3 linked regions of the Homo sapiens genome follow. The protein of the gene in region 2 purifies or fractionates together with the protein of the main gene of each other region. This does not show direct contact. Each region holds a gene or a part of one and is shown on either strand. Other genes may lie near its edges. The genes, in order: ARHGAP18, PREX2 and NT5C2.

Region 1 (3,655 bases), on a different chromosome or scaffold from region 2:
AGATCTCTGCCACAGATATACATTCAGCTGAACTCTGCCCCATGAAACATCACTTCTTGGTTATGAGAACAGCCTAATCAAGAACAGCTGTTTTATATAAATAAATTTTAAGGGCACAAATGTATAACAATTATTCTTTTCTCAAATACTTAGCTATAATGATACATTGGTACTTTTACCTGCAAGTATTGAGATAACCTAAAGTCAATTTGCTCTTTGAGGAACAGGTGCAAATAACTTTTCCTTGCTCTACACTAGATGATTTTCCATCTTATTAAGAGTAACAAACACTCTGCAACTTTATAGCTACCCAAACTGAAGCATTAAAGGTATTCAAAACAGTCACCTGGGCCTAACAAGAGTTCAATACCTTTAAACACTTTTTTAGGGTACTTTTTGGATATTAAATGTAGTATTGAAATAATGTGAGCTATTTATATAACTTATCCCACTATTAGTTTTAAAATAAAGGCATTATACTGCATATGCATTAGAAGCAAACATTCATTTCCCAAATGACTTACAAATTAATCACAACAATGCTTTCCTATACTATTTCCAAATTAATTCACCAACAGGTAACAGTCTGACTGCCCTTTATCATCATCGAAAACACGTACTTTATGTCAAGCACTCATGTAAGTATGTTACATATGTTGACTCAGTCAATCCTTAAAATAAGTCTTGAGTTAGGTATTATTATTCCCAGTGTGCAGAAGGAAACAAAAAAATTGAGGCCCTGAAACATTAAATAGCCCAGAGTCACAAGCTGCTACATGAAAGAAGCAGGACTTCAACCCAGGCAATCTAGCTCCAAAATCTGTGTATGCAATCACTACGCCTCCTCCCACTTACACTCATTCATTCATTCAATCTTTTAGTAACTACCTAAAGTGAACTAAGCACTTTGCCAAGGCTTAGGTATAAAGGAACACCCCTCCCTTAAAAAAAAAAAAAAGACAGGCAAAGTTCTCACCCTCAATGAACTTACATCTGAGTATATAATAAAAAAGTAAAATTCAAATTAAACTCAAAAGTTTACTATGACAACTCTGGTTAAGTGAAATGAAGTGAAATGTCTGGGGAAATTTTAAGATACTGTACAGAAAAGGATTTAGTAATAATGTTCATCTGCATAATTTTTTAACATTCTCAAACGTTACACATTTGATCTTCATGATTAACTTTGCGAAGCAGGAAGGGCATCATTACACGATATGATTTCATAAATGAGGAAACAGATAAATGTGTCATGTCCTAAATATCTTAGCAAAGATGCCACATCCTTTGTCCAGGAATCTCACTACCCACAGACCCTGCTTTTCTAAAAAGATCCAGAACAAGCCAGATCATAAGCTGCCTGGGGTTGTACTATGGCCTGTTCAAAAAGATTAACTGGAAAAATCTGATGTCCTTTCAAAAATGTGAAATTAAGGCCGGGCGCGGTGGCTCACGCCTATAATCCCCACACTTTGGGAGGCTGAGGTGGGCAGATCGTGAGGTCAGGAGTTCGAGAACAGCCTGACTAACATGGTGAAACCCCATCTCTACTAAAAATACAAAAATTAGCCAGGCGTAGTGGCAGGTGCCTGTAATCTCAGCTACTCAGGAGGCTGAGGCAGGAGAATCACTTGAACCTGGGAGGTGGAGGTTGCAGTGGGCTGAGATCATGCCACTGCACTCCAGCCTGGGTGACAGAGCGAGATTCCATCTCAAATAAAAAAAAACAAAAAACAAAAAACTGAAATTAGGAAATAAAGAGATGGGTCAGTTAGCTATGAAATGTAAGATGACTCAGGAGGTAACCAGGCTGGGCATCCATCAGGAGCCAAAAGCTCAAGCTGAAATGATGAGATTAGAAAGCCAGTGGGTAGAAAAGAATTGAGAGTCTCCAAGAGAACAGAAATGCCATGAGTGTCCCCATATGACCAGCTGCTGAGGGAAGAAGAGATGCCTCCTTTCCCTATGACCCAGATCCCTGTAACAAACCTCATTTCCCATAAGGAAACCTCAGTGTTCTTTGCAGCCAAAAGGCAACTACCAAATGCATATGAAAAGGAGATGAGGTTTCATACTCTCTTTCAACACAGAAATTCAGATACTTAGTGGACTTAAGTATGGAAAAAAACTACAGGTAGTAACTGGTCACACGGGTCTCCATGGTTTCTGTTTATTTCTTGCAAAAAAAAGGATAAACTTGGCCAGCTCACAGCAACAAACATGGAAGTCAAAAGAATGTGCCTTCAGAAAGATCTAGACATCCCTTCCGTTCCTCCTGCCCTAATCCATGCCCAATACCCTGACTCATCCCCACTCTCCTCAAATAATGAGAGTTCTTATTCTCTATCCCTTTTTTATCGAAAGAAAATAGAAAAGCCCATTAAATATCAACTGAATAAAACATTTAGAACAAACCATCTCTCTCAAAATATTCGTATGAAATGAAAGGGTGGGCACAGGACAGAGGGCACCTACAGCAGGGTTCAGGAGAGGATTGTTGTCATACCTGGTCTAGCAACCCCAAACCTACAGAGTGATCCATGCTGTTAGTGACTCCCACTGAGACCCACAGCCTACAGGCCTCATCACAGTGACACCACTAGGATGATGACAGAGCTTTCTCAGGGCTCTTGGACAGAACAGAATCAAGAAGAGGCAGGAGGGCCAGGCACAGTGGCTCACGCCTGTAATCCCAGCACTTTGGGAGGCCTAGGCGGGTGGATCACCTGAGGTCAGGAGTTCGAGACCAGCCTGGCCAACATGGCAAAACCCCGTCTCTACTGAAAACACAAAAATTAGACGGGTGTGGTGGCGCACGCCTGTAATCCCAGCTACTGGGGAAGCTAAGGCAGGAGAATTGCTTCAACCCAGGAGACAGAAATTGCAGTGAGCCGAGATTGCGCCATGCACTGCAGCCTGGTGACAGAGCGAGACTCCATCTCCAAAACAAAAAAAAAAAGAAGAAGAAAAAGAGGCAGGAGAAAGAAGACAGCCACAGGGCATGGACCTCACAGATTCATGAGCAAGGAGTAGAGGGAACTATCCCTGTGGCCAGGGACAGCCTTGGCCTCTAGGGTGCTGGGTTCTTTTTCTAATTTGTGAGACAGATGTTTACAGCCAGTGGGGAATTAAAACAGAAGAGTGAAACAGATAATTTGTTCTGGCAATGAGTCCAATTATCAAAAACGAGTTAAGCCTAACACCCATGCAGTCCAGTAGCAATCATGTGCATCATTAAATGCATCAATTGTTACGAGTCTTTATTGCTTCAACACTTGTAGAAGTATGATAAATAATAACAGAACTCAAAATATTAGAAAATTCATAAAATATGAAAGCAAGCCCCACTTAGAAGAGACAAGGCAGCACAGTGCAATCGTACAATGCAGAAGTAATAAATGTGCCGTGGACAACAAAGCAAATGTTCAACAAGTTTCTCTAGGAAGGTGTGGGTGGGGATGGTTCTGATAATCTCTAAATCCTTATATTCGAAAGGCATAAACTTAATTAAAAGTTCTATGAAGATAATATAACTTTAATAGGCCCACAAAAATCACAGGTCTCGTCAATGAGAGGAATCAAAAGGCAAATATCACATGTCTGTGAATGAACCTAAGACTTCCCCAGTTGGACACCGGGTGCAACCTCTAATAAT
Region 2 (3,655 bases):
TGCCAGACGCCTCAGGATTGAGTGGTGAACAAACCACACTTTAAGACAGTTAGTAACCCGGGGGTTACAGATAGGAATGGTGGTGGTGGTGGTGGTGGTGGTAGAGTAATCACTGAGGTTTCCCCAAGCATTTTGCTACTAAATGTACAACAAGAGGGGCACACCATAAAAGCCAACTTTTTTATAGATGCTTATTTGCCAGGCAAGATTACATTATTATATACATTGGCTTATTTCATTCTCACAGTACTTCTGTGAGTTGAGTTATGAAACACCGGGATGCACCCTACTCCCTCCAGAGTGTGCAAGTTAGATGCAGGGAGAGGAAATCCTGCTTAATTTGCACAGGATATGTATGTAACAATATGTCTTGCCTACCCCACCTCTAAAATGGGGAAAATAATAATACCTACTTCATAAGGTGGTTTTAGAGATTAAATGAATTCATACCTGTTAAGGACTTAGCATCGTGACTGTCATGAAAGCTGAACAGATGTTAGCAATGATGATGATGTTTAAAAACACACAGGTCATTGCAACATACTGTATACAAAAATCTTTCTTATCAATGGCACAAGGAGAAGATTCACCTGGAATTGCATGCTGCTGAAGGTTTTAATTAATGGACCTCTAGTAGGTAACTTAATATTTTATACCAATGAAAGTGAAGGGATTTCTGCAAGCACAAATATTATGGTTTGATGCCTTGTTGCTTTTCAGAATCTAGAAATTTTATGCAAAACATGGTGTTAAAAATACAGTTTTTCTATCATTTGTTTGTAAGCCTAACACTTGTCCCACGGGGTCAATGCAAGCATGATTGCAGCTGTTTTAAATAAAAAGCAAATATCTGAATACAATTCATATAACTTTGAAAAAAATTATGCTTAGCCCCATGACTTCTAATTTAAAAGATACATAAGCACAGAGGCCTCTTGGCAAAATGAGAACTCCTGCATTTTTTCCCTCTTTGGTATTCAGAGTTCATCTGTCTGTGCAGCATGGAGCTTGGATAATTGGAGTTAGTCTAATGTTTTAATCTTTTGGGTGGAGAGGGTGAATAAATAGACAATCTGTCTTACAGGACATAAAAGTATCTTTCCAAAGAGAAAAACTGTGTTTAAAATCATCCATAGCTTTTGGTTATTAAAAATGTTCACAGGGCCTCAAGCAATGTAACATAGCTCCTTCAATTTTTCACTGGTGTCTAAAACCTATAAAATGTCAAAATATTGTTCAAATCTCACCTCGCTGTGAGACCTGACCTGACTGCACCACTGTTTGAAGTGGCAGCTTCACGCTTCCTTCCCTGCTTTCTTTTTCTCCTTACCATTTGCTGCCATTTGATATACTAGAAAGTTTACTTGTTTTTACTTGTCTTCTCTCAGTAGAATTTGAGCTCCAAGAAGGCAGGGGCTTTTGTATTTTGTTTTTGTTGTTGTTGTTGCTTGTTTGGTTGGTTTTTGAGACAGTCTCACTCTGTTGCCCAGGCTGGAGTGCAGTGGTGTGATCTATGCTCACTGCAACCTCCATCTCCAGGGTTCAAGCGATTCTCCTGCCTCAGTCTCCTGAGTAGCTGGGACTACAGGCTTCCACCACCACACCCAGCTAATTTTTGTATTTTTAGTAGAGACGGGATTTCACCATGTTGGCCAGGCTGGTCTCGAACTCCTGACCTCACGTGATCCACCCACCTCGGCCTCCCAAAGCGCTGGGATTACAGGCATGAGCCACCGCGCCCGGCCCTTTTGTGTGTTTTATAAACTACTATATCCACAGCACCAAGAACAGTGCATGGTATAATAAATGTGTTTAGTGAAATCACTTAATAGGTATTTATTCAATGCACAGCATTGGGTTTGACATTATGGAATATGCGTAAGAGGTATAAGATATCGTCACCGTCTTGAAATAACAAACATTACATTGCTATGGAAAAATGAGAATCAAGATATGTGCTACTGATTGGAACTGAAAATCACAGGTATTTAGTAAATGCGAAGATGGCTGCTGGCTTGAGAAGCCCTATATGGGTCCTTTGTTTATACATGGTTTAATTCATTTTGCAAGTTTTTTAGCATGCTCTTTGATAATAAAGTTCAATTCCATTTTTGCCTAATTTTGAGTTAGTTGTAACAGAAACATGCCACAGCCAAATGTTCAAGCCTAGAGTGTTGGAGTCAGCAGCTACTCAAAGTCCTCAGCAGGTTTCACACAGTTCAGTCTGACTGCGGCATTTTAGCCTGGAGCCAGGTGGAGGAGCTCTTTCTGTGGGCAGATTTGGGACATTTCATCCTGGCTGGCTTGCAGATTTACCCCATCCTCACATTGTATGTAACTCTGTTTAGTGTCTTGTAATCCCCAAGGCCAAGACTCCTGTTTGTACGAGCAGGGAGACGGATAGACAATCCAATATTCTCCCTGCCAAATAGGGAATGCCTGGGCAAAACCCAAGGCATAGATAGAGGGTAGGTGGGTTTTTAATACTGAATATGAGCCAGTGAGGACATGAAGGCCCATTTATAGTTTGGGTTTAATATTTGGCTAGCACTTTAAAGATTACTGAGTATTTTCTGTTTTTCTTTTCTTTCTTTTCTTTTCTTTCTTTTTTTTTTTTTTTTTTTTTTTGAGTTGGAGTTTCGCTCTTGTTGCCCAGGCTGGAGTACAATGGCACGATCTCGGCTCACCACAACCTCCGCCTCCTGGGTTCAAGCAATTCTCCTGCCTTAGCCTCCTGAGTAGTTGGGATTACAAGCATGCGCCACCACGCCCGGCTAATTTTGTATTTTTTAGTAGAGACGGGGTTTCTCCAAGTTGGTCAGGCTGGTCTCGAACTTCCGACCTTAGGTGATCCGCCTGCCTTGGCCTCCCAAAGTGCTGGGATTACAGGCATGAGCCACAACACCCGGCTGATTACCGAGTATTTTCATAAGGTGGTGATGGTTGTGCTAATGGCCAGGGGCTAGAGGTGACACCCATTATGCACCAGGAATATTCATTCTCACAGCAGTCATGGAAGCCAGTTATTCTCATTATCTCCATTTCACAAGTGTCAAACAAAACTATCACAGCTTTGTTTTAGCTATAGTCATACATGGCACAACCTGTATTTCAATGAAGCTTTCTGGTCTAAATTGTATGTTGTTTGTATGACTTATTTTGTGAAGAACAAGAGAACTTTGAATGACATGCTTTTTATGCAATAGAATATTTACTTGATATGAAACATTGAAGCACTCTAGAAATATTTGTAAGCCTATTGTATTCAGCAAATAAGGTAGTTATATATAGCAGACAGTTTGAAAATGTGCATTTTTTTTTAATATTACATTGCAGCCTTCTGTCTTCAATAACATATTCTCCTAAATTAGAACGTAAGACATCAGAGGGCATAATACCAACAGACAGTGACAATGAGAAGGGAGAAAGAAACAGCAAACGGGTATGTTTTAATGTAGCAGGAGATGAACAGGAAGATTCTGGTCATGACACCATCAGCAACAGAGACTCTTACAGGTAATTCACTAATTCCTCAAACTCATTTTCTTAACAAAGTCAAATATGATGCTGGATTTTCCACAAAGATCTTGAAAAAAGTTTTTGATTGTTTTTCTTTTAATTGGTCTTTCACAATAATCACCTGTTACTACCGACC
Region 3 (3,655 bases), on a different chromosome or scaffold from region 2:
GATATATATATATGTGTGTGTGTGATATATATATATATATATATATATATATATATCACACACTCCTTCCCTCCCCTCTTTCCTGAAATTATTAGCTTTTTTTTTTTTTTTTTAACAATCTATCCCTCCTTCTTGGAATTACTAGTTTTAAACTGTTCTTTAATAACTCTAATGAATTTTGAAAAATTCCTGCCCCAAATCCCTCTCAATATTGCCTCTGCATCATTCTTCCTTTCTTTTCTTCTACTGCAAAAATAATTAAACAAATGCTTTTTTTTTTTTTTTTTTTTAAAGACGAAGTCTCTTTCGCTCTGTCTTCCAGGCTGGAGTACAGTGGCACCATCTCAGCTCACTGCAAGCTCTGCCTCCTGGGTTCACGCCATATATATATATATACATATACATACACACATACACACACACATATATATATACTTTAAGTGGGGGTGGGAGGAGGGTGAGGGATGAGAAATTACCTGATGAGTACAATGTACACTATTCAGGTGATGGTTACACTAAAAAGCCAGACCACTGCTATGCTATATATCCAAAACTGTACCCCCTAAATCTATAAAAATTAAAAAATAAAATAGTTTAAGATGAAGAAATGCCTATTTTTCCAGAAGGCTCCTTGAAACTGTTGCATTTAAATTATCTTAAATGTTTCATTACCTCTCATCTTTTAAATAGTTCATGATAAGTTTTTGGTTTTTTTTTTTTTTAGTTTTTTTGAGACAGAGTTTCACTCTTGTTGCCCAGGCTGGAGTGCAATGACGCGATCTCGGCTCAATGCAACCTCCGCCTCCCAGATTCAAGCGATTCTCCTGCGTCAGCCTCCCAAGTAGCTGGGATTACAGGCATGAGCCACCACGCCCGGCTAATTTTGTATTTTTAGTACAGACGGGGTTTCACCGTGTTGGTTAGGCTGGTCTCGAATTCCTGACCTCAAGTGATCCACCTGCCTCCCAAAGTGCTGGAATTACAGGAATGTGCCACCGTGCCCAGCCTATAAACAAGTTTTTTTGTTTATTTTTCATTTCATTATTTTCATTCAGAGTTCTTTATGTCACTTGTCCCAAACTGCACTACACATTCCTGTCAAAGGCCAACACTCAATAGTTCACACACCAAAGTGATGCCAACAGTTAACAAACTCCAACTAATAACATCACACTTACCCACACACATCACTCACTGTCCTCTTACCCTGCTTTACTTGTTTTTTGCACATAACCCTTACATTTGACAGTTTGCATTCTGTCAATCTCTCCAAAATATAAGCTCCATAAGGGAGAGGAGTGTTTTATTTGCTGCTGTATCCCCAGCATCTCGCACAGTAGACTTAACAGACAGAAATAAATGAACCATTAAACGTCTACACATGGAGCCCTTTGCTTTTCAGAAGCCTATTTTTGTGTAAGCCTGAAAATGCAAGAATAACTGCAGAAGTCCCTTTTAATACTCTAAATGAATCTTTGTGAAATCTTATTCTTGGTTCACAAATACATAAGATTCTTGGCTTGATTAACATAATATTTTGCTAACATTTCAACATCAGGCCTCGGAACAAAAGCTTCCTTGTTCTCCGAAGGAAAAATAACAAAGTTGAGAAGAGAGAACTTGTCGAGTGAGAAATGCAGTACCTGTTGCCTTGACAATTTGTTTTTCTTCTTCAAGCAGCTACATGCTCCTATCTGTAGTCTGAAATTGTAACTAGAAACTACAAATTTATTTCATCTGTTCCTAAACTTTTGAAAATATACAAAAAAGACTAATTTTGCTATGTTCTCATCAACATTCTATTGCTACTATCCTGCCATATCACATAGAATGCTATATATTTGTTCTACATCAACACATTAAGGCTGCTTCTAACTGAATGTTTTGAATAATACCGGACCTTCAACAATAACATGGTTATTGACACAAAGGAACAAGAGAGCATGTAAGGAAAACATTTTAAAAGACTGAGCTATTTCTTCAAAACGTTGCCATAATTAACTGAGGTCTTCAAAAGCATAAAGGTATAAACCAGCTGTACAATTTTTACATTCAGACGATATATAATACTTTGCACCTTTAGTAATGACTCCTGAATACTCCTTTAAAAAAAAAAAATACATAGGGCAAGGTGCAGTGGCTCACACCTATAATCCCACCACTCTGGGAGGCCAAGCCAGGCGGATCCCTTGAGCCTAGGAGTTCGAGACCAGCCTAAGCAACATGGCAAAACCCCCATCTCTATAAAAACATGCAAAAATTAGACAGGCATGGTGACGGGTGCCTGTAGACCCAGCTACTCGGGAGGCTGAGGTAGGAAGATTGCTTGAGCCGGGAAGGCAGAGATTGCGTGAGCCAAGATCGCACCACTGCACACTCCAGCCTGGACAACAGACAAAGACCCTGTCTCCAAAAAAAAAAAAAAGGAAAAAAAAAAAAAAGCAGGTAAAAAACTGCTTTATTTCAGGAAAGAACTCATTCTCTTACCAATGAACTCCTGCTCACCATTCAACTTTGGTTTAGCTCTTATTTTTCCTGTTACAAAATAATTTAAAAAGATAAAATCGGAAAGGCATAAATAACCACAGACCACAGTATTTCTACCTTTTAATATATAAATTCATACTTAAGGTTTAGTCCACCTATTTGGTTAAAATTCAGAGATATGCATGAGTTCGATGCCTTAATAATGCTAACATAATAACAGCTGACATTTATTGAGTACTTACTATTTTTCATGTATGATTCTAAGCAGCATAGTACATATTTTAACTCACTGACTTTTCAGAACAACCCTATATGTTAGGTACTATTATCCTCATTTTACGAAGAAGTAAACAGGAAAGAGAAGTTAGATAATTTGAAGTCACAGAATTATACTGTGGTTAAGAGTACGGATTCTGGAGCCACACTGCCTGCGTTCAAAACCTGGCTCTAACACCAACTAGCTCTACGACTAAGCAAATTATAAGCACTACAGTTTCTTCCATTGCAAAACAGGTAGAGTTGGAACAAGGATGTAAGGTGCTAAGAACAGTGGCTGAGACATGGAAATTGGTCAATATAAACTGTTTATAATGCTTGAGTGCAAGATGTTTGAATACTTGAAGCCTTAGCACAATACAGTACTTGATGTTTGCAGGAATGAGTAATAGGCTTCTACTTTTGGAGTCAAAACCTCATAGCGTCCATTACGTATCAGAGGCTGTAACAATTTCACACATTTATCACGTCAATTAAAGTATCCTAAATATAAGGACAACTATAGCTATAGGTTTGTTTCCTTTCTTCCTGGAAGCTCTCAGACCTAGAGAGAATTAATTCAAGATTTATTTCACCAAACCTACTTCAAAAGTAAACGAGTAATTCAAGGCTTAAAAAAATGGCATTTACTGGCTGGGTGCGGTGGCTCATGCCTGTAATCCCAGCACTTTGGGAGGCCGAGGCGGGCGGATCACAAGGTACAGAGATCGAGACCATCCTGGCTAACACAGTGAAACCCCGTCTCTACTAAAAATACAAAAAAATAGCCAGGCGTGGTGGCACATGCCTGTAATCCCAGCACTAGGGAGGCTGAGGCAGAGGAACAGCTTGAACCCGGGAGATGGAGGCTGCAGTGAGCTGACATGGAGCCACTGCACTCCAGCCTGGGTGA

Evidence for each region.
Region 1: the proteins of PREX2 (region 2) and ARHGAP18 purify together in Homo sapiens (affinity purification with mass spectrometry; one large-scale study listed by BioGRID and IntAct). This does not show direct contact.
Region 3: the proteins of PREX2 (region 2) and NT5C2 purify together in Homo sapiens (affinity purification with mass spectrometry; one large-scale study listed by BioGRID and IntAct). This does not show direct contact.

What each region holds. Positions count from the first base shown.
Region 1 is NC_000006.12:129,700,056-129,703,710, forward strand, and holds part of ARHGAP18 (rho GTPase-activating protein 18), read right to left. Parts: intron 1-3,655. UniProt on the Homo sapiens protein: Rho GTPase activating protein that suppresses F-actin polymerization by inhibiting Rho. Rho GTPase activating proteins act by converting Rho-type GTPases to an inactive GDP-bound state.
Region 2 is NC_000008.11:68,112,417-68,116,071, forward strand, and holds part of PREX2 (phosphatidylinositol 3,4,5-trisphosphate-dependent Rac exchanger 2 protein), read left to right. Parts: intron 1-3,336; coding exon 3,337-3,516; intron 3,517-3,655. UniProt on the Homo sapiens protein: Functions as a RAC1 guanine nucleotide exchange factor (GEF), activating Rac proteins by exchanging bound GDP for free GTP.
Region 3 is NC_000010.11:103,183,239-103,186,893, forward strand, and holds part of NT5C2 (cytosolic purine 5'-nucleotidase), read right to left. Parts: intron 1-3,655. UniProt on the Homo sapiens protein: Broad specificity cytosolic 5'-nucleotidase that catalyzes the dephosphorylation of 6-hydroxypurine nucleoside 5'-monophosphates.